Regions from separate parts of the Homo sapiens genome. Here regions 1, 2, 3 and 5 are each linked to region 4. The links come from fine-mapping of genetic effects on gene expression. A gene starts in region 4. Each other region holds a variant in brackets. All regions are shown on one strand. Distances are from middle to middle. Region 1 overlaps SCML4 (Scm polycomb group protein like 4). Region 2 overlaps SCML4 (Scm polycomb group protein like 4). Region 3 overlaps SCML4 (Scm polycomb group protein like 4). Region 4 holds the start of SCML4 (Scm polycomb group protein like 4). Region 5 overlaps SCML4 (Scm polycomb group protein like 4).

The links. PIP is the estimated chance that this variant, and not a neighbour inherited with it, causes the effect.
Region 1: its variant is fine-mapped to the expression of SCML4 in whole blood (TOPMed, PIP above 0.99).
Region 2: its variant is fine-mapped to the expression of SCML4 in whole blood (TOPMed, PIP above 0.99). The same link has a PIP of 0.9 or more in blood mononuclear cells.
Region 3: its variant is fine-mapped to the expression of SCML4 in whole blood (INTERVAL, PIP above 0.99).
Region 5: its variant is fine-mapped to the expression of SCML4 in whole blood (TOPMed, PIP above 0.99).

The regions. Positions count from the first base shown.
Region 1 is chr6:107,717,727-107,721,845 of GRCh38, reverse strand. SCML4 (Scm polycomb group protein like 4) reads left to right here. Exons shown (of 8, transcript NM_198081.5): 6 at 853-1,143. Among named protein-coding and RNA genes, the nearest start is that of SCML4, 100 kb to the left of the region's middle. The variant A/T (reference allele first, on the strand shown) is at 2,406.
Region 2 is chr6:107,754,969-107,759,087 of GRCh38, reverse strand. All of the region lies in intron 2 of SCML4 (Scm polycomb group protein like 4), which reads left to right. Among named protein-coding and RNA genes, the nearest start is that of SCML4, 67 kb to the left of the region's middle. The variant C/A (reference allele first, on the strand shown) is at 2,263.
Region 3 is chr6:107,703,437-107,707,544 of GRCh38, reverse strand. SCML4 (Scm polycomb group protein like 4) reads left to right here. Exons shown (of 8, transcript NM_198081.5): 8 at 2,220-4,108. The coding sequence ends at 2,345. Among named protein-coding and RNA genes, the nearest start is that of SCML4, 120 kb to the left of the region's middle. The variant A/C (reference allele first, on the strand shown) is at 1,633.
Region 4 is chr6:107,822,250-107,826,368 of GRCh38, reverse strand. SCML4 (Scm polycomb group protein like 4) reads left to right here and starts at 2,056. Exons shown (of 8, transcript NM_198081.5): 1 at 2,056-2,243. RefSeq lists an enhancer at 3,904-3,973.
Region 5 is chr6:107,729,824-107,733,942 of GRCh38, reverse strand. All of the region lies in intron 5 of SCML4 (Scm polycomb group protein like 4), which reads left to right. Among named protein-coding and RNA genes, the nearest start is that of SCML4, 92 kb to the left of the region's middle. The variant C/G (reference allele first, on the strand shown) is at 1,928.

The sequences.
Region 1 (4,119 bases), 100 kb after region 4:
AGATCAGCACTTGCATCCCTGCTTGTTAGCCGTGGCGGAGGATGGCTGCCCTCATGTGTTTGTATCAGGACTAAAGGTGTGGGGAGAAAGCACTGTGGCACCTGGGCCACCACCCAGGCCACAGTTGTCTCTCCTGACTCTGGGACATTGTGACTCTTGCTTGATCTCTCCCAGGAGTCCTGAGCCAGGTGAGGGGGGCTGTGCTGGTGGGTGAGCAAGAGCAGGGAGTACAGGGAGATTCTGAGAAGCCAGCAGAGACTGTGAGGGCAGAGCCACTGCAGAAGAAAGTCTTTGATCTTACTCTTTTTTTTTTTCTTTTTTTGAGATGGAGTTTTGCTCTGCAACCTCTGCCTCCCGGGTTCAAGCGATTCTCCTGCCTCAGCCTCCTGAGTAGCTGGGATTACAGGTGCCTGCCACCACATCCGGCTAATTTTTTGTATTTTTAGTAGAGATGGAGTTTCATCATGTTGGCCAGGCTGGTCTTGAACTCCAGACCTCAGGTGATCCACCTGCCTTGGCCTCCCAAAGTTCAGGGATTACAGACGGGAGCCACTGCACCTGGCCTGATTTGGGCTTATTAAGTCATCAATGGCCAAAATATCAATTTTCCTCTAAGCACCGAGGAGCACACCTCCTAATTCCTATTACAATATGCTCCTGTGGGCAAAGCAGCTCTCAGCCTGCTGACAGGTATGCTATTTGGAATTATGTTGTGAGGTTCATTTCTCCTCTCTGCATGCTCACAAATACTGGCTACTGTGTTGGCAGGGCAGGGTTTGCCAAGACGGAGGGTCTGATAGCTTCCTGAACTGCTCTCTGATATCTGCTTCTCTGTACTGCCTTATTGCTTAGTCAAGACAGTCACCACCGAAGAGTACCTGGTGAACCCTGTGGGCATGAACCGCTACAGCGTGGACACCTCCGCCTCCACCTTTAACCACAGGGGCTCCTTGCACCCCTCCTCCTCGCTGTACTGCAAGAGGCAGAACTCTGGAGACAGCCACCTTGGGGGTGGTCCTGCTGCCACCGCTGGTGGTCCCCGCACTAGCCCCATGTCTTCTGGTGGCCCCTCGGCACCTGGGCTGAGGCCTCCAGCCTCCAGCCCCAAGAGAAACACGACCTCTCTTGAAGGAAACAGATGTGGTAATGTAATGCATGCATCAGCTTCCCACTGACTTAACATCCCTTGCCCTTGCGCGGGGAGCACAGCATCTGGGGAAGGGGGAGTGTGGCTGTTTAAACGTGGGACTGCTGGGAGATCAGAAATTTCCACAAGTCCTTTCATGGATCTTGAGGTTCTCAAAAACAGCCAAACTCAACCTTTGATAAGCAAAGAAAATCGTGTATTAGGGCAGGCTAGGCCACAGGATACGTAGACTCCAAAATGTACACAGGCTCAAATACCATAGAAATTTTTGTTCGAGAGCCAAAGGTGAATGTTCCTGATTCATGGATGCATCTCAATATAGGGACATAGGCTCCATCTATTTTGTGGCTCTGCCACCCTCTACAGCCTTCATGCCCCATGCATTAGGGAATAGAAAGGGAAAGAAGGTGTGGAGAAGACACAGGTGCTTCCCTGCAATCTGAAAGTGATGCTCATCACTTCCACTCACATCTCATTGGCAAAAGCTGGTCATTTTGCCACACTTAACCATAAGGGACTCTGGAAGCTGTAGGTTAGCTCTGCCCAGGAGAAAGGAGAACCAGACCTTGGTAAAGAATTGTCTCTTGCATAGGAAGTGTCACCTTCAGGATACAAATACATGAGCAGAGGCAGAGTTAGGCAAAATTCCCCCAATGCTGGTTGTAATGCCACTTCTGTCTCATCCACTAAAGAAAGCTTGTTGGAATGCAGTCTACAAAAGCGCTATAAGGGCTAAAGGATTATAGTAATAGCTTGAAGGCCCTTCTGATTGATGTTTTAAAAAATCATTTTCAAGCTTCAGTATTTTGATAGTGCCTAAAGGCCATAGAGTATAGTGGATAATCACTGGGACTAGAGCCAGACAGCCTGGGCTGAGATGCTGGATCTGCTGCTTCCTGCCTACCTTTTGCAAGTCTTAACTTACCTGTGCTTCAGTTTCCTCACCTATAAAATTGTGATAATAATAATGGCAGCACCTGCCTCATAGGATTGTTGGGAGGATTAAATGAGTTCATACATGCATTTAGTACAAGACCTAGGAGGTAACAAGAGCTCAATAAATGTTAGTAGTTACAGCATAGATCTTTTTAACACATCCCTTAACAGATCACAGCCCATCAGCTCCACAGCTGAGAACTGCTGAAGAAAGAAGGCCCCAGGCCAAGGAGTCTGGGAGTCTTCATCTTGCCACCCTGTAGCCCCTCAGTGGGCAGGCTCTGTCTTCTGTGGCAAGTCACATTTCTCCCCTGAGCCTAGG[A/T]TCCTTCCACCAGTGACCCCAGCAAGCCGCACACGTGAGCTATTTTGTATGATTCAAGACCCTCCACACATTCTCTTCCAAGAGCCTCATCCAACCCAGATGAGCGTGGCCCTGACCAGCTTCCCCTGGCCAAGGATGGAGAGGTGAGAAGGGGCCCCTTGCCGGAGAGGCGTTCTGAGGGGTAGAGCGCAGATTCTCCCTCCACAGCAGCTCTTACCAAATGTAGAGATGCCCTGCAGGCCACTTTCCAACACTGTCACACAGGGCCATGAGCCAGGCAGATTAAGTGAGCAGAGCCCTATTTTCCAAAGGAGAGCAACATTGTTCCATTTGATTCCTAAGAACAAGAGAAAGGGACAAGATCTTTCACGAACCAACACTGTAAAGTAAACCAGGGGCAGCCTTGATTTCATAGGTTTGTCCCCAGTGTTAGCTTAATATCTGGCATGTGGTAGGTGTTCAATAAACATGCATCATGTCTGTGCCCTCACGGTGTCCCTTTGTCTTCTTGTCAAAACACTCATCCTTATGTCCCTCTTGAGTTTAAATGTCTTTCTCTCATCCTCTTCTCCTCAGCCCCATTCCCCTTTTCTCAGGGTGGTGATCACAGGACACCATGCTGATTGAATTGACTCATAATCCCAGAGTCCCACTTTTTAAAAAGGAGATATTTACTCTCTCTCCCACTCACGTTGGTGCAATCTCAGCCCTATGTCTTAAATGCAGGATTTCCAGCAGTAAGAGGGAGGCATGATTTGGTTGGAGAGAACTTCTATCACTCACTCAACAACAGTCTGCCCTGTTCAGTCCAACTGGTGACCCAGGGCCAGGGAATCCAGGGCTCTTCAGAGGGCTTCAGCATAGCTCCTGTCCCCCAGCCCCTCACACCTCCTTCCAGTTGAGCCCTAGGATGTCCTCCTGTCCTTCACTTTCATCCCCATACCGGCCCTTTGTTCTCCTGTGTATGAGTCTGTTCTGCTAATAAAGACATACCCGAAACTGGGTAATTTGTAAAGGAAAGACGCTTAATGGACTCACAGTTCCACATGGCTGGGGAGGCCTCACAATCATGGCAGAAGGCAAAGGGAAAGCAAAGGCACGTCTTACATGGTGACAGGTAAGAGGGCTTGTGCAAGGGAACTCCCCTTTATAAGACCATCAGATGTCGTGAGACTTACTGGCTACCACAGGAACAGAATGGGGGAACCAAACCCATGATTCAATTATCTCCAACTGGCTCCATCCTTGACACATGGGGATTATTACAATTCAAGGTGAGATTTGGGTGGGGACACAGAGCTAACTCATATCATCCTGGAATCAGGCCCTGACAGTCTGAGTAATCTTGCCAGACGACTGGCCGAGGGGCAGCCCAGACCCTTCCTCAGCCTCCAGCTCTGAGAAAGCCTCTCTGCTGGAGCCTGGTTGCACCCCAGGAGAGGCCCCCTAGCTCAGGCCCTTCTGCCTGTCAGGATCTGGGATGAGATCAGAGACACGGAGTCCACCTGTGCCTGCTGCCTTTCATCCCAAGAACATCAATACCTGAACCCTGAATCCTGGCTGTCTTTTTAATAACTTAGAAGTATTAGAACCAGCCAGGCACGATGGTTCATGCCTGCAATCCCACCACTTTGGGAGGCCAAGGCGGGTGGATCACTTGAGGTCAGGAGTTTGAGACCAGCCTGACCAACATGGTGAAACCCCGTCTCTACTA
Region 2 (4,119 bases), 67 kb after region 4:
CTTGAACTCATGAGCTCAAGTGACCCTCTTGCTTCAGTCTCCTAAAGTGCTGGGATAACAGCACTCAGAGATTCTGATGTGAGCCACTGGGCCTAGCACCATATTTATTTTTATAAAATGAAAACTAGCTTGTGTGTTTCCCCGCTTAAAATCCTGTAATTATTTCCATCACTCATAGAATAAAATCCAAGCTTGTTATCCTGACTGTATTTGTTTCCTTAGGGCTGCTGTAACAAAGAACTACCAACTGGGTGGCTAAAACATCCTTTCTGGAGGCTAGAAGACTGAAATCAGGGTGTCAGCAGGGCCATGCTCTCTTTCTGAAGACTCCAGGGGAGGGTCCTTTCTTGCCTCTTCCTAGCTTCTGGTGGTTGCCGGCTGTTTCTTGGCTATCAACACATTACTCCAATCTCTGCCTCTGTCGTCACATAGCATTCTCTCTAAACAGGTGTCTGTGCCTGTATCAAGTTTTTTTCATCTTATAAGCACACCAGTCATTGGGTTAAGACCAACCCTAATGCAGTATGCACTCATTTTAACTTAATTACCTCTGCAAAGACCCTATGTCTAAATAAAGCCAATATTTGCAGGTACAGGGGATTAGAACTTGAACCTATGTCTTTTTAGAGAGACACAATTCAATGCATAACGCTAAGTTAGAAAACTGCCATTATCTCAACCTAACCACCTAACTTGACCTCTTCTTGCACCATTCTGACTCTTGCCCACAGTTCCAACCACTCTGGTTTCTTGAAGAAGCCAAGCTTTAGAATGTTTGCACAAGCTGTTCTGTCTGCCTGGAAAGCTTTCTCCAGTCACAACAGGCTACCTCTAGCCACTCACATCCTGACTTCAATGTTACCCCTTTATAGGCCTACCCTGGTCACCTAGTTGCTTGCATTGAGAACAAGAAGTTTATCTTCCCCATTCACAGCTGAATCTTCAGCACCTAGAACAGTTCCTGGCACATAGTAGGTGCTCAAGAAGTTTTTGTTGAATAAATGTCTGTCTGATTGAATGAATGATTTTTTTTCCTTTTTAGATTTGGCTTAAATGATGCCACTTGGAAAGGATAGGTATTACATAAGCAACACTTAGGAACCATTTCAAGATGGATTGGAAGCATGTTTCACAGAGGGGATCATCTGCGAGGTGTGAGGAAAAAGGGTCGATTTGCAGAGATTTCTGAAGATGTGATCCCAAGAGATAAGCATGGAAAATGTAGATGGGTTCCAGGAAAGATGGGCAGTTTCCTCCTCCTGCCATCACTTCATGAACAAGAAACTTGGGACTTATTTGCATTTTTGGAATTTCTAAAAGTAACAATAATAATACTAACACCAATAATGACAATTAACTTTTATTGAGTTCTCACTTTGCATTATGCTAAACTTCTGCATTTAATTCTAACTACATCCCTGTGTGAGGGCTATTATCTTTACAGATGAGGAAAGGCAGGCTCTGAGGGCCTAAGTACTAAGCTTCAGAATCAGCGAGTGGCCACGCTGGACATTCAATCCAGATCCAAAGCTGGTATTCCTTTGCATGTGCCCACTGCTGCCCTAAACACATTTTAAAATCTTGCTTTGTTGGCTTACCCTCTGCGGATGTGCCAGCAGCCTCTATACATCCTCATCCTTCCCCAGCCACACTCTCCATCCTCAGATTATCCACCTCTTGCTACCAGTCTGTCAAACAATGTTTAGTTGGCATTTCTGTTACTGCCAAAGCCAGATGTTTCTAGAAAAATCCTTGAGTTTTATATCAACCGATCCTCTCCCCTTTAGTGTGCTCTTGACCGCACATCTCCGTTTCCCCCCAAATCCCCTCCCAATTCTTTCCAGTGATGTTCTAGCAAATGTCTTAGACAAGGTCCTCCCCTAAATGACAGCTGGAGCCAGAAATTCCCCAGGCCCATATTTTGGTTCTATAAATGGAAAAGAAAGATGAGCTGATTCCAGATTCCCCAGCCCCCCTGGTGGAGACTCCAGCTGGTAGGGACACTTTGCCCTACCGCTTTGTCCCAGCAGTATTCTCTAATGAGGCAAAGCACAGACCTTGCCTTGGATGAGGGGTCGCCACACCTGCTGGGTTGAGGTTTTGAATCTCAGGTAAAGGTGGCAACTGCACTAGCATTTGGGCAGGGATGTTGGCTTTGAAGGCCCAGGATTAGCTCCTGTATGTCAGAGCATGGCGTCCTGCACAGCAAGCTGCTTCCAGTTCTGTGCTGCCAGGAAGAGGCCTCTCTTCTCTCCTCCTCTC[C/A]ATTTACCCAGTTTATTCTGCCACATCCTGTTTTTAATATTTTGAAAACAAACACTATTTTAGAATAGTTTTCAGTTTACAGAAGTATTGCAGAGATAAAACAGAGAATTCTCACGTACCCCGCACCTGATTTCCCCCCATTTTTAACATCTCATATTACTGTGGTATGTTTGTCTCAACTAGTGAACCCATCATAATACTTCATTATTAAATAAAGTCAATATTTTATTCCGATTTAATTAGCTTTTCCCTATTCTATTCTATTCCAGGATCCCATCCAAGATACTACATAACATTTAGTTGTCATGTTTCCTTAAGCTCCTCTGGGCTGGGAAAGTTGCTCAGAATTTCCTTTTGTGATGACTTTGGCAGTTTTGAGGAGTACTGGTTGGGTATTTTGTAAAGTGTTCTGCAATTTCAGTTTGTCTAATGTTTTTCTCATGATTAGACTAGGGTTAGGGGGCTTGGGGAAGAAGATCCCAGAGGTGACGTGGCATTTTCATCATATGGTGAGAGTACATGCTAGTGACATGACTTATCACTGATGATGTTGACCTTGATCCTATGGTTGAAGTCTTATTTATCAGGTTTCTCCATTGTAAAGTTATATTTCCCCTTCATTTCCTTACTGTACTCTTTGGAAGTACTCACTGTGCACAGCCCATCCGTAAGGAGTAGGGAATTGCACTTCACCTACTTGAGGGAGGGGTGTCTACATAAATTATTTGAAATTTTTATGCATGGGAGAGTTGTTTGTTCTTTCCCTTTTATTTACTGAGTCAACCACCTATTTATGTCAGTGTGGATTCATGAATATTTATTTCATACTTTGAGTTATAATCCATTACTACATTATTTATTTGTTGTTCCTCTTGGTCCGAATTTGGCCACTGGGAGCTCTTTCAGTTGGCACCTGTGTCCCTGTAACCAGTCCCCACCATTGTGTGTGTTTTGTTTCCTTAGTGTTGTCTTACTTTCTGGCATTACAAGATGCTCTAGGCTCCCAGTGTGTAATCCCTACCCTAATCCTAAAATCAGCCATGTCTGCAAGGAGTTTTTTTTCCTTACATTGAAGAATGGTGTTAGAAACCACTATATCAGAACTGTGTTTTATTTTGTCCATTTAAAAAACAAAATAGACAGCTTTTTTTTTTTTTTTAGAAACCTAAGGCAACAACAAAGACAAATGCCCTGCCAGAGAACAGCTTGGATAGGTTGCGACAGGCAGAGAACCCCCCCATTCCACTGGAGAGAGGTTTGTGCTGATGGACTGGGCCCTGCATCACACTAGAGCAAAGCTTCTAGCCAGTGGGCTCATATCCGTGCTCTTCTTTTTTAGGACTTTTCCAAAATCATGGGTGACTCCCTTTTCTACACTAGGCTACTTTTTATTCTTTATATTAAGCAATGAGATTGAAATTTCTGAATGCTAAGTCAAAAGGGTATTTCTACTCGTGATTTTTTATCTAGCGAAGGATATTTTTAAAAAGCCATATACTACCCATAGTTGCTCGTGACTTTTTCTTTCATTCAAAAGTTCTAGCAGTTGTTTTAGAGACTGGATAAATACAGGAGGTTTCCTTGCAATCAGGCAATTTAATCTAATCCCTGTAATTTCAGTTGGGCAGAAATGGACAGAAGTAACAGCCAATTATAATTCCATTACTTCATTTGAGGTGGGTTCAGTGAACAGATTCCTCTCTAGTAATTTTTTTTTTTTTTGAGACAGGGTCTGTCTCTGTTGCCCAGGCTGGAGTGTAGTGGTGTGATCATAGGTCACTGCAGCCTCGATCTCCTGGGTTCAAGCAATCCTCCTGCCTCAGCCTCCTGAGTAGCTGGAACAACAGGCATATGCCA
Region 3 (4,108 bases), 120 kb after region 4:
ACATGCCAGGCAAACCGCAGTAGCACCTGTTCCTAAACCACTTCGAGGATTAAATAAGAAAATGCACAAAAGGTGTTCAGCACGGTTCCTGACTCGGATAGCCTTCACTGAGCAGATAGCATTATAATGATTTTGAGATATGCTAAAATATAGAGATGGTAATTTTTTTAAAGATAAGAATCAATAATTTACCTGCCAGGCTTACTATATGCATTTTGTTTTTGTTTGTTTTTGTTTGAGACGGAGTCTCATTCTGTCGCCCAGGCTGGAATGCAGTAGTGCGATCTCAATCTCGGCTCACTGCAGCCTCTGCCTTCCCAGTTCAAGCAATTCTTGTGCCTCAGCCCACCCGAGCAGCTGGGATTACAGGCACCCACCACCACGCCCAGCTAATTTTTATATTTTTAGTAGAGACTGGGTTTCACCATGTTGGCCAGGCTGGTCTCATCCCAAAGTGCTGGGATGACAGGTGTGAGCCACCGCGCATGGCACTGTACTCATTTTATATTGTGCTGTAACAGATTACCACCAACGTAGTTGCCTCACACAATATACATTCTCTGTCTTACCACTCTGGGGATCAGGAGCCTGGCATGGGTCTCAGTGGGCTCAGCCAGCAAGGCTGCCTTTCCTTCTGGAGGTTCTAGGGAGAATCCGCTTGGTTGTCTTTTCTGGCTTCTAGATCCACCATCAGTCCTTGGCTCCTGTCCCCCTGCCATCATCTTTAAAGCCTGTAACATCAAGCTGAGGCCTGTTCGGCTGCTCGGGCTGCCATCCCTGGTTCTCACTGCTGATGTCCTCTTCCACGTTTAAGGAGCTTTGTGATTACACAGCCGCCACTCCCCCCACCCACCTGGCCCCATAATCCGGGATAATCTCCCTACTTTAAAGTCAGCTGATTAGCAAGCTTAATCCCATCTGCAACCTTAATTCCCCTTCACCGTGTAACTTGACATTCACAGGTTTGGGGACTAGAATCCAGACGTCGTGCATGGAGGGGAAGGAGCATTATTCCGCCTTCCACAGTGACCATTATTTTTGTTTCCTGTTTCTTATTTTATTTGGTGATTCTGTCATAGAAATCATGCTCTCCAATCTTAGGAGGATTCTCATCTAACTCAGCACTTGCCTTTTATTAGGCATATGTTGACCTCACCTAACAATGGGGACTTAAGACCAAGAACCACAGAGTGGGTTATGCTTGGACAGATTTGGGCAGGGGGAGTCTGGCTGTCTTCCAGGGTGGGAGGAGACAGTGGGAGTCCAGGAGGTGAGGGAAATAAAAGACAGTAGAAAATGAGGCTCCTGGGAGTGGCCCACAAGTAAGCCTTGCCCACTGCCATTTTGCCAAAGACATGGAGAGTGACACAGAGTGGGTGCTCCATCAATACTGGCTGGCTGGGCAGATGAATGAGAGAGCTGGTGACCCTGGCACCATTATATGAATCCTGTAACTATGTCTTTTCTCCCTGCTTGAGCACCTGAAATTTCTACCCTTTGTCTCCAGTGACCTGAAAATGGCACTAAAGGTGACCATGGAAGCCCAGCCTTGCTAGGTTCATGAACTCCACATGCATTCTGGAGGGTGACCATTTTCAATGACCAATGGCAGCAACACCGGGACCAAACCTC[A/C]AAGGACTGGCTCATCCTCTTAGTAGTTCTTTGTGCTGAACCCTGAGATGAAGCAGGGGCATTCTTTAGTGTATTCCATCTAGTGGAATAGACAGGGCTAAACACACCTGAAATCTTCCATAGGTGGAATGAGTTGCTTTGTTATCAGCTAAAGGTAGGTGGGCCTACTAAGAAATGAGAAATTAGGGCAATAGGTGGAGGTTTGGAATGGAAAGACCCTCTAGTTCCAGGTTCTAATGGATGACGGTTTTTGCCCCTTTAGCCAAGTTTGGATGAGGAGATAAACTTCCTAAGTGGGATATTGGGAACACACATGAGGTTGTGTTTGATTCCTTCTATGAGGGGAGGGCAGGAATATGAAACACCCCGTGTATCAAATGACTCCAGGGAGATGATGGGGAGAGGAGAACACAGTATTTGTTTGCTTTAATATTTTAAAAGACCTTGCCCCAGGACCAAGAGAATATGCTGCCTAAATCAATCCATATGCCCTGAGCACACCCCTTGACCACACCTTAACCTTAGCCACTGTTCGATGACTCTGACCATCTTCTGGGTTTATCTTTCTTCTGATCCTATCCCACCAGGAGATTGATGGCAACGCTCTGCTGTTGCTGAAGAGTGACATGGTCATGAAGTACCTGGGCCTGAAGCTGGGACCTGCACTGAAACTCTGCTACCACATTGACAAACTGAAGCAAGCCAAGTTCTGACTTTTTTAAAAAGACAGAAGCGAAACCCAAAACAACAGATCCCAAGATTATCTTCTGCCTTACCAATATCCCGCCAACATCACAAACTAGACTCTCCTCTTAAAATTAACAGCCACAGAGACGTGGTCTTTTTATAAAACTTGTGAATCTTTGCCTTTTGAAGAATTTAACATGGACCTTTTCGAGAGGCTCCTCTGTGTTCATAATTTGCCAAAAAATTACAAAAGCCTGTGATTTTTAACATCCCTGTTATGCTGGTTTCTCTTAAAGTGGGTCCTATTTGCATAACGAGAGAGTGGGGAACTGAATGCTTATGCCCAAGGAGAGTTCTGGAGGGTTCAAAGGATGAAAGAAGGACCTTTGTCCCTGCGGTCTCTGCAGGGACAACCCCCTCAGCACCATCTGCCTCTAACTCTGACCTGGGGACCTATCCATGTGAGCCTTGTTTGCCTCAGCTCTGGAAGCTGACTTCTGAAGATGACTGCCTCACCTTGCACTGTCTGGAAAACTTGAATTATTTTACGCCGTGAAAGAAAAAGGAAAAAAAAAAAAATCTTTTCTGTTCCTAGAAAATCTGAAGTACTGTGTTTCTCCGCTAGAGGGCAGACTGCTAATGAAATTTCAGGACCCTCACTGACTGCAGTAGCAGGATTGTTCAGTACTGAGTGGATGGGTTAGGGTGTCTGTGAACAAGATCTAGCCCACACAGAAACAGGGGATTTATTCCACAGTTAGCACCACAGATTGCGACTTGGGAAGAAACCATCAGCTAGAGGGGTCTAGTTCGTATCCAATCATTATTGACTGACTGACTGATACTCAACTAGCAAAGGCAAGAATTTGGAAGCACGCTCTACCCAGATGGGACTTTGGAGTTCCTTCCCTTCCAGAGTCCTTATTGAGGTGTTGAAGTGTTGGCATGCCGAAGAATCTTAGTGACATTTAGCCATGGGTGTTTCTTTAAAAAAGGAAAAGAAAATGTCTCAACGAAGCTTTGAAATGGGAGAGTGTTGATTTCTAGTTACATTGCTGGGTTATGTAGTTGTATCTGTGGCTAATTTTTCTAGTCCTCAACAAATACACAGACATGCTATTATGGGGTTTAATTCAATTTACAAATAGGTTTTCCTTCCTCACAGTGGAGTAATAGAAAAAATTGATTTTCTGCTCCTTTGCAGCTGTGTCCAGAGACGGACAATGAATCCACAATTTATTAGGCAGAGGCACAACTTCTCCACCATTCGTTTTATCCTTCTCTTTTCTCTGTTTCCCTCCACCTCTCTTCTTCTTCTTTCACACTGAGCAGAAAACATATCTTCAAAATGAATTCGCCTTTGCCATGTGCATATTCTCTTCCTTAAAAGGACATCAACAGTGTTGGAGATGAGGAGATGAACATTAGATTTTGGAATTTCTGGGAGGGAGAGGGTTAGGGATGACTCAGGGCCTCCCTTCGCCCAAAGGTGAATCAGAAAAGGCACCCCTTTCTCTGGGATACAACCTGAGCAGGGGTCTCAGCTGGCAAGTGGAGCAGGGTGGGGGCTCAACCTCCTCACCGCTTGATCAGCTGCCGTTGTACAGAGCATGACCTGTATAACCTTGAGGGCAGCCCTGGGTAGATCTGCAGAGTGACCCTCTATATAGTTAGAATCCAGATGAAGGCCATAAGAAATAGTCCATGCCATGCCGTTAGGCCCACTTTCATGTGCAGTACTTGAGAAAGCACATCGTAGCCTCCTTTTCAGACACACAAATGGCGGCTG
Region 4 (4,119 bases):
AGATGCTGTCCAAACTTAAATCATCCATCTTCTTTCCTTTTCTTTCCTTTTCTTTTCTTCTTTTTCTTTTCTTTCTTTTCTTTTCTTTTCTTCTTTTCTTTTTCTTTCTTTTTTCTTTTTTTTTGAGATGGAATTTCACTCTTGTCACCCAAGCTGGAGTGCAATGGCGTGATCTCAGCTCACTGCAACCTCTCCCTCCCAGGTTCAAGCGATTCTCCTGCCTCAGCCTCCCGAGTAGCTGGGATTACAGGCAAGCGCCACCAAGCCTGGCTAATTTTTGTATTTTTAGTAGAGATGGGGTTTCACCATGTTGGCCAGTCTGGTCTCGAACTCCTAACCTCAAGTCCAGGAGTCCCAAAATGCTGGGATTACAGGCATGAGCCACCACACCTAGCCCATCCATCTTATTTTCTTTTTTTTTTTTTTTTTTTTGAGATGGAGTCTCGCTCTGTCACCCAGGCTGGAGTGCAGTGGCACGGTATCGGCTCACTGTGAGCTCCGCCTCCCGGGTTCACGCCATTCTCCCTCCTCAGCCTCCCAAGTAGCTGGGACTACAGGCGCCCGCCACCACGCCCAGCTAATTTTTTGTATTTTTAGTAGAGACGGGGTTTCACCATTCACAGGATGGTCTCGATCTCCTGACCTCGTGATCCACCCGCCTTGGCCTCCCAAAGTGCTGGGATTACAGGCATGAGCCACTGCACCTGGCCCATCCATCTTATTTTCTTTTCTTCTCCTCTTCCTCCTTCTTTAGTGAAATCAACTTATATGAAATGAAAATGCAAACTACCAAACCTGCCTTTTCCCATACAAAACAACAAAATTTGATGATTAAATGAACTAAAGTAGTGAATTTCTTCTTGCTCAATTAATTACAAGGCTTTGACTTAAAACAATTTTTTATATTTTCATAATAAATTTCAGAGGAGAGATTTCTTATGTACTTCTAATGTGACTCTACACATATATTTAGAGAAACCTCAAGTTGTCCATTGCAGTTTTTTTCACTCTCAGTAACTGGCCAGGTTGTGGCCTAAGCCTTCGTTAGCCCTGGTTGATATTTAGTCCCGGCTAAATTTGTTTGCTGCTCATCCCTAGGAGTAAGCCACATGTTTGTAGAATGGATGTTTCATCTTGTAGGAAATACCTGTGAATATGCCAATATCCCAGAGTGGATGAAATGGGCAATGGGGAGCCCTGCTCCACTTTACAAAAAGAAAGGAAAAGAAAAGATCCCTTCGCCGATATATATTGATTTGCTGCAGAAAATGCAATGGGGCATGGGAATGAATAGTCACTCTTGCCCTGTTTCTATCCTGTGCAGGTCCCACCACGTTGAGGTGGGTAGAGATGCTTACACACACACACATACAGGCCTGGAGCCAAAGTCAGGGCCGGCTTTAATGAACTGTACACATATGTTGTGGGCAGCCGCTGATTTAATATGTACAACCATGGTGTGTGCACACACCTGGATAGGCACACTGCTCTGGGAATCACACAGGGTCTCCTGAACAATGATGCTATTGTAATATTTCTTTTTGTTTTATTTGTCCAAAGTCAAACATTCACTCTGTCAGATCACCAGTGTCTTATAAGCCTGGTGTTGGCCCACACTGCTGCAGGATTGGGACAAAGAGACGATGTTACAGTCTGGTTTCTATGGCAACAGAGGAGGGGTAATGAAAACTGAAATGTTGGAAACACCCATTCTAACCATTGTGACATAATTCAGGTTATTACAAGGATGTAACTACCAAAGAAGCAGAAGTGTCATTACCTTGCAGCTCATGTCGACAAAAAGCTACACTGCACATTTCTCTTAGGCTGCTAAGAGGAAGGAAACACAAAACACACACACACACACACACACACACACACACACACACACACACACACACACACAGAGGCCTCGTTTTCTGCATGTAAAATGTGTGTGTTCTTTAAAAGCCAGTGGTTGGCTGGTTTTCCGGACATGATGTGGTTGAAGCTGTCATCGTAATGGAAATTCATTGCTGTAGCTATGGTAAATCGAGTTTTCTGCCTGTGCTGAATGCATTAGTCTAATGAGATGTTTGCAGCTGGAGCGCAGGGCTGCTGGAGACTAACTGTGAGCTACTAACACGGGTGGAAGATAGCTTTTGCAATACTCGGTTTGCATGTGCTGAAAGTCATCTGTCTTCTGAGTCAACACTCCCGACCTGGTAAACAACCTGCTCAGGGCTCTGGTGAACAAGCTGTAGGTAAGGGAGATGCACAATTGGAGGCGTGCCGTTGACACGGGATCTTTCTCTTGTAACTGTCAGCATGACAGGTTACCTGTTTCAGTTTTTTCTGGGTTGCATGCCTACCTCTATGGCAACGCACAAGAGTGTCCTGCACTAAAACCACTGAGTCCAGTAGGTAAACTTTAGTTCCTCATATGCAAAGTACAGCATTTAATTTATTAACCAGATCTCAGAGGGGAAAATGTAACATTGAATTATATAGTTTATAAATTTGGGCTATATACATGTTCATTACTCTTTAACTCTGCATTTAAATACCTAGAAAGTTATTTTTTTCCAAATGTGAACTCAAGTAACCGGTTAGTTATTTTTTCCCTTCACGATAATTTTGCTTTGTTTTGCTTTTTAATTTTAAAAAAATTGTACTATGTCTTGGGATAAAAATATTTACCTAAAATTTGGTTATTAAAATTGGTATGTTATGAACATGTAAAAGTGTTTTTTTTCCCATTTAATTTTATTTCAAATATCCCAGGTAGAATATTTCACATGTCTTTGTGCTGGTTTTTCCTAATTTATGAGGCATAAATAAGAATAATATTTACTGCTAGTTTCTGGTTTTAATTCGTTTTTTGGGAAAAAAACTGGTGACTATGGAGTATTAGCGGCAGTTTTCCCAAGCTCAAAATCACCTCCTTCCCAGGTGGAGCACTGTGACTTGAACCAGCTTCCACGTGCTCCTCCCAAAGCATGAGGGGTCCTCTCCAGGTTGATTGCTGGCTGGACAGGAGCGGTGGATGAGGCCAGGGTGCAGGCTGCTGAGCTGTTTTGCTGAGTTGAGGTGCTTGAGTCAAAGTTCTTTCCACTATCTGTGATCGTGAACGAGAGGTGTCTCCTCGTGTTGTCTCTAGATTCCATGACGGTACTCATGAGGGTTAGACAATCAGTGGCTTTCTGAGAAAGTGGTTTTTTACTGATCTCAGACACTACAGTACTTGAGAAAGTAATCCAGGCACTTCAGAATCAGGGTATTTGTTATATGCTGTTTTTCTTTCTTTTCAACCAGAGGAACCATTTTTGAAGAATGAGGGATATAGCTGCTTTTTTTCTCCACTTTTTTTTTTTTAAAGCAAAATAGAATATCTGGAGTGAAAGCATAAAAATAACTACAAAGGAATTCTTAGTGTGTTAAACTATCTGGGGGGTATAATATTTGTGTGGAGCATTTTTTGTGTTGCTTGGTAGAACTAGTCTGATAAAATGAGGGGCTGTTTGAGCAACAGCAGCTGGGTGAAGATTACCTAGAAAATCGGTACTGCGTGATCGTCTAAACTCAAAAGGTTAATGTAGAATCTTCAGTTTTAGGGAAATTGGTGGCTTCACAAACTATAACTTTTAAACAGGCTTTTTGACAGAATTTTTAAAAAATATGAATGTGTTTTCTTTAGCTCTTTAAATTGTGTACGTAGATGAGCTCTGAAATATTTTGGTAAATTCATCAGTTTGCTTCATTTGTGGAATTATAACAAAAGTGCAAAGCCCACAAAAATCCAGTTCTTTCATGTATAACATGTTTACATTTCTTCCCTGTGTCCCCAAAATTACTTTTATTTTGCTGCAAAAAAAAAAAAAGAAAAGAAAAAAAGAAAAGAGTAAATGAACGGTAATAGAAAGACAAGAAAACAATAAGCGAAACGAGTAAGTTGCTTTTCATCATTTCTTTGCTTTTGGTGGTGTGTTTTCGAGGCGAGGGAAATCAGCAGAAGCAGTTTCACTTTCTGGTTCTTGACTCCTGGGGGTGAGGGTGAAAGGCTGTCTCCTCTAGCAAGCAGCAGGTAAGCTAAGCAGCTCAGCCCACAGAAAACAAGCCAGACCCAAATACTGTCACTTG
Region 5 (4,119 bases), 92 kb after region 4:
GGCCGGGGGTCTCCCAGCCTCTCTATCAAATAGTTGTGTCTGTGTCCACTGCAGAAGATGTTCTGTTTCTGATGAGCCTGTCCAAAGAGGCTCCTGCCTCTGACAGAAGAGTAGGTCCGGGAGATGGGCCAGGCATCTAAGTAGATCCAAGGGGTTGGAAACCAAGTTCTCTGATTATACCTCAGAACAGTGGAAGCACAAGGACTGGTGGAAACAAAGGGACAGGGTATGTGAGATGCAGCCATTCGAGGCCTCCAGGACCTGCACAGGTTGTATTAGAGACCCCTTCTGGTTATTCCCCTGGACCACAACCCTGAGCCCCTGTGGCGGACCCTAAGGTACTGCTATCTGCAGGCTACTCACACCATTATCTGTTGTCCATGCTTGAGAACTAGGGTTAGAATGGCAAACCATGCCAAGAGGAGCTGAAGCAGCTTAGGAAACCAGTAGGCTTCTAAGATGAACTTCATGAACTCTCTCCTAATAGTGGTGCTTTCTGTGTTTCATTCATAAGCAACAAACCCTTTGCTGAAAAAAACTACAACAAACAAACATAAACTCCCTGGCAGAGAAGTGGGCAGATACTCTGTACCAGATCTATCCTAGCTACTGCTGAGTTAATAATGACAACTTCCAATCTGGACATGCAGAATCAAGAGGAATGAAACGGCTTCCTTTCTTCTGTCCACAATAGTTATCTTTTGCTGTGTCATAAATTACCCCCAACACTTAGGGGCTTAAAATAACATTTAGGGTCTCACAGCTTCTGTGGGTCAGGGGACCAGGTGCAGCCACAGGCCTTCTGGTTCTGAATCTCTCACAAGGCTGCATCTCAAACCTCAACTAGGGCAGGACCCACTTTTCCAGCTTTTTCACATGGTTGTCAGCAGGACTGAGTTTCCAATGAGCTGTTGGTTTGTTGCCAGATGGGTCCCTTTGCAGAGCATCTCACAGCACAGCAACTTGCTCCACCAGAGTGAGCAATGCTAGGAGTGCTGTGAACCTCTCTCAAAGTCGAGATGTCCATTTAGAAAGGAAACTTACAAGGCGTCCTCTATTCCAGGAACTTCAGCATTTTCCTGATTAAGGACCACTTTTAATTTCCCCAAGGTTCTATGAAAGACCAAAAAATTGTGGGGGCTGTGGAGGAAACAGCGTGACCACAGGATGTCCCACCCACTTCGCCTCCCCCAGCTCTCGGGAATTCTCATAAGCTTGGCGTGGAGGTTTGGCAAAGCTGCGAGATCATATGGAGGGTGGTATGGAACCTGCTCTCCTCCCGAGAGCACAGAAAGGCCATTCATTATCCCAAACAGATGACTTTGGTCAAAAATGCCTTTGGTCAAAATTTCCAAAGGAGGAAATCAACCCCTAGGCTTAGAACAAAGTCTTAGGCAAACCAGAAACATCTGAGAGGATGTAAGAAGTTCAGGTGTCAGGCATTAAAATTATGGTCGGTTGCTGTGCATCTCATTAGGGGAGAAAAAATAGAAATGTACTTAAATGGACCAGAGGGGAGTCATAAGGTTGATTCTCAGGGCTGAGTGATCTGAACTGCAGAGACAACCTTAGAGAGAAAATCCATACTGGCCAGAGACCAAGTTAATGGAAAATTTAATTGAAGCAAATGAAATGCTCAGCCTCATAGGTAGTATGGCCCTGTGCCCTTTGAACCAGAAAGGCTGGGCCAGGAGGCCACAGAGGGCCCTAAGGGAAAACTCCCTTATCTGCAAGAACAAGGGGCGGGACTGAGTTTGAGAAAAGAAAATCTGCAAACCTCCACAGGAGCCTCAGTGAAAGGCTGCATGCAGGGGAGGAAACCTTCAGGTTTTGGTCACCAGGAAGTCCGTTAGAGATTCACAGCAGAAGGCCCCTCTGCATCCCACAGCACCAAGCACGTGCTGGAAACCGGCGGTCCCCCAGAGGA[C/G]AGTGGGAGAGGCTGCCGGGTGGCAGAGACACAACCACCAAGGTAGGCACCGAAGCACCTGTGTCTGGGCTCTGAGTAAAAGAGGTGCAGCTGGCACGAGCACCTGCTACTGCTTCCTGCGCCTTCTCCCTCCTGCCCCTCTCCTCGCAGGTCTCCTTTTCCTGTACTATCTAGGTGATGGCACCTGGCTAAGCAAAGAGGGGTAGCTGCTCCACAGCTCTACAAATCTGCGAACTGCACTCCTGCCTTTTCTAATCTGGGTTTCAGGGCTAGGAATCTCTGATGTTGCCATCTCTGTCAGCAAGCCGAACCAAACTGTTCACACACGGAGGCCACAGGACACTGACCATTGCCTGGGCAGGGTGTGGGGGTCGGCAGGGCTGGGCAGACCGGCAAAGGGGTCAGGCAATCAATCCTGAGCAAGGCCAGGGCTCCCAGTCTGGAGGAAGGTGGTCGTGCTGATTGTGGAAAGGGCTCACTCTGCAGCTGCTCCCTCAACTGGGAAGACTGATGCGGGAAGTGGGGGGTGAGAGAGAGAGAGAAAGACAAACAGGCAGAACTGTTTAGAGATGACAAATAGTGTCTAAGACTAGATGTTGTGGTTCTTATTGCCTTAATAGGTATTATGTGAGAATAATTTTGCATAGTGGAATTGTTGTGTTTCAGGACTTCATTTGGTTAGTGAATCCAGGTAAAATGCCAGTTTAGTTTTTAAAAATAAAATCAATAGTCCGAGCCCACTGGGCTGTAAGCAGTTAAGCCTTGTGTCCTAAGTGAGGAGAGCTGACACTTGGTCAGGAGCATCTATAGTTTTATACATAAGGTCCGTTTTCCCCTCCCTGCCGCTCTGTTTTGGGACTTTCTCTTTCTCTCTCTGGCTCGTGGCTTTCTCCTGCACCTCTTCCTCTTTCTGCTTCTCTCTTTGGAGGTTCTCTACATTTCAGGGGCTCACACCTGACCCTCCAGGACTGTAGCAGAAATGGGCTGCACCTGGGTGTCCTGGAAGCCATGGATGCAGGGGCATTACCTAACCCTATCTCCACCCCAGGCTTCAGCAAGGATCAGGGAGCAAGGGAGGAATCCACACACTCTGGACTCAGAACCCTGAAGCTTTGATCCCTAAACCGGAAGGCTTAGGCACAGTTCAGGTTCATATGCAAACAGGTATGCCTTGAGGCTTGAGTGGGTTTACATGCTTCTAGAGTGTTCTTTGGCCTCACTAATAGGCAGGCTTTATACACAGTGGCTGGAGGGAACCATAGTCCACAAGCAGGTTTAGCGATGGTGAAAAAGGACCATCAGTCTGTCCTGAAAGCTCCCAGGACGCCAAACCTTGAAAATGTGGCAGATTTCTTTGATGGGGCCACGTGTGTGTTTTCCTTTCTATTTAAGCATGCTCTCGTGACTGTGCAAAAGGCAGATCATTCTTTTTTTCTGGAGGAAAAGATTTAATGATTCTTAAATGGCAACATTAGTCTCTTGGCTGGATGCAGAGGGTTACAGAAGTGAGTAAAAAGCCACTCATTTACCTTGCTTTGTTAAGCTGGCATTCTCCACTGCAATTAAATGGCCTCACACAGGCTGGGTTGGAGCCTCTTGTTGATGAGCAGTGCCAGGGTGACAAGACAGCTTCTTTCAGATGGAAAACGATTTTGTATGGACACAGGAGGAAATTTCGACCATGAGTGCCTTCGCCTGTGAGCCCTACGGTCTGCCGGGACTCTGTGTGCAGGAGTTAGATCCTCCAACAGGTCGGCTGGCCCCATCTGGTGTTTGCTCACCAGTCAGCCACAAAAGCGCTTGAAAAGTGGGGGTTCCCTCTCCAGATACAGACTTGGTCCTTTCTTTTTACTGACTTTAAATATTGGATTTAGGTAAGAAACATATGTCACAGTTCAATTAAATTCTTAAGCTCCTAGTAGTTCTGCATACCTAGAATTCATCTGCCTCATGTTGGATGTTGAGGTGACCTAACATGTTGGATAGTGTAAAGGGTACATGTCCAGCAGTCATGTGTTTTAACTGAAGCAAGAAGAATTGAGGCTAGATGTAAGGAGGAACTTTTAGGCAATGAGATTCATAGCACAATGGCCTCACTCTAAAGGAGATTGTAAAATCTCTTTGGGGAAGCTTTCAAATAAAAGACTCAGTTATCTACCATAGTTTCTTTTCTAGACAACACCCTGCCTGAA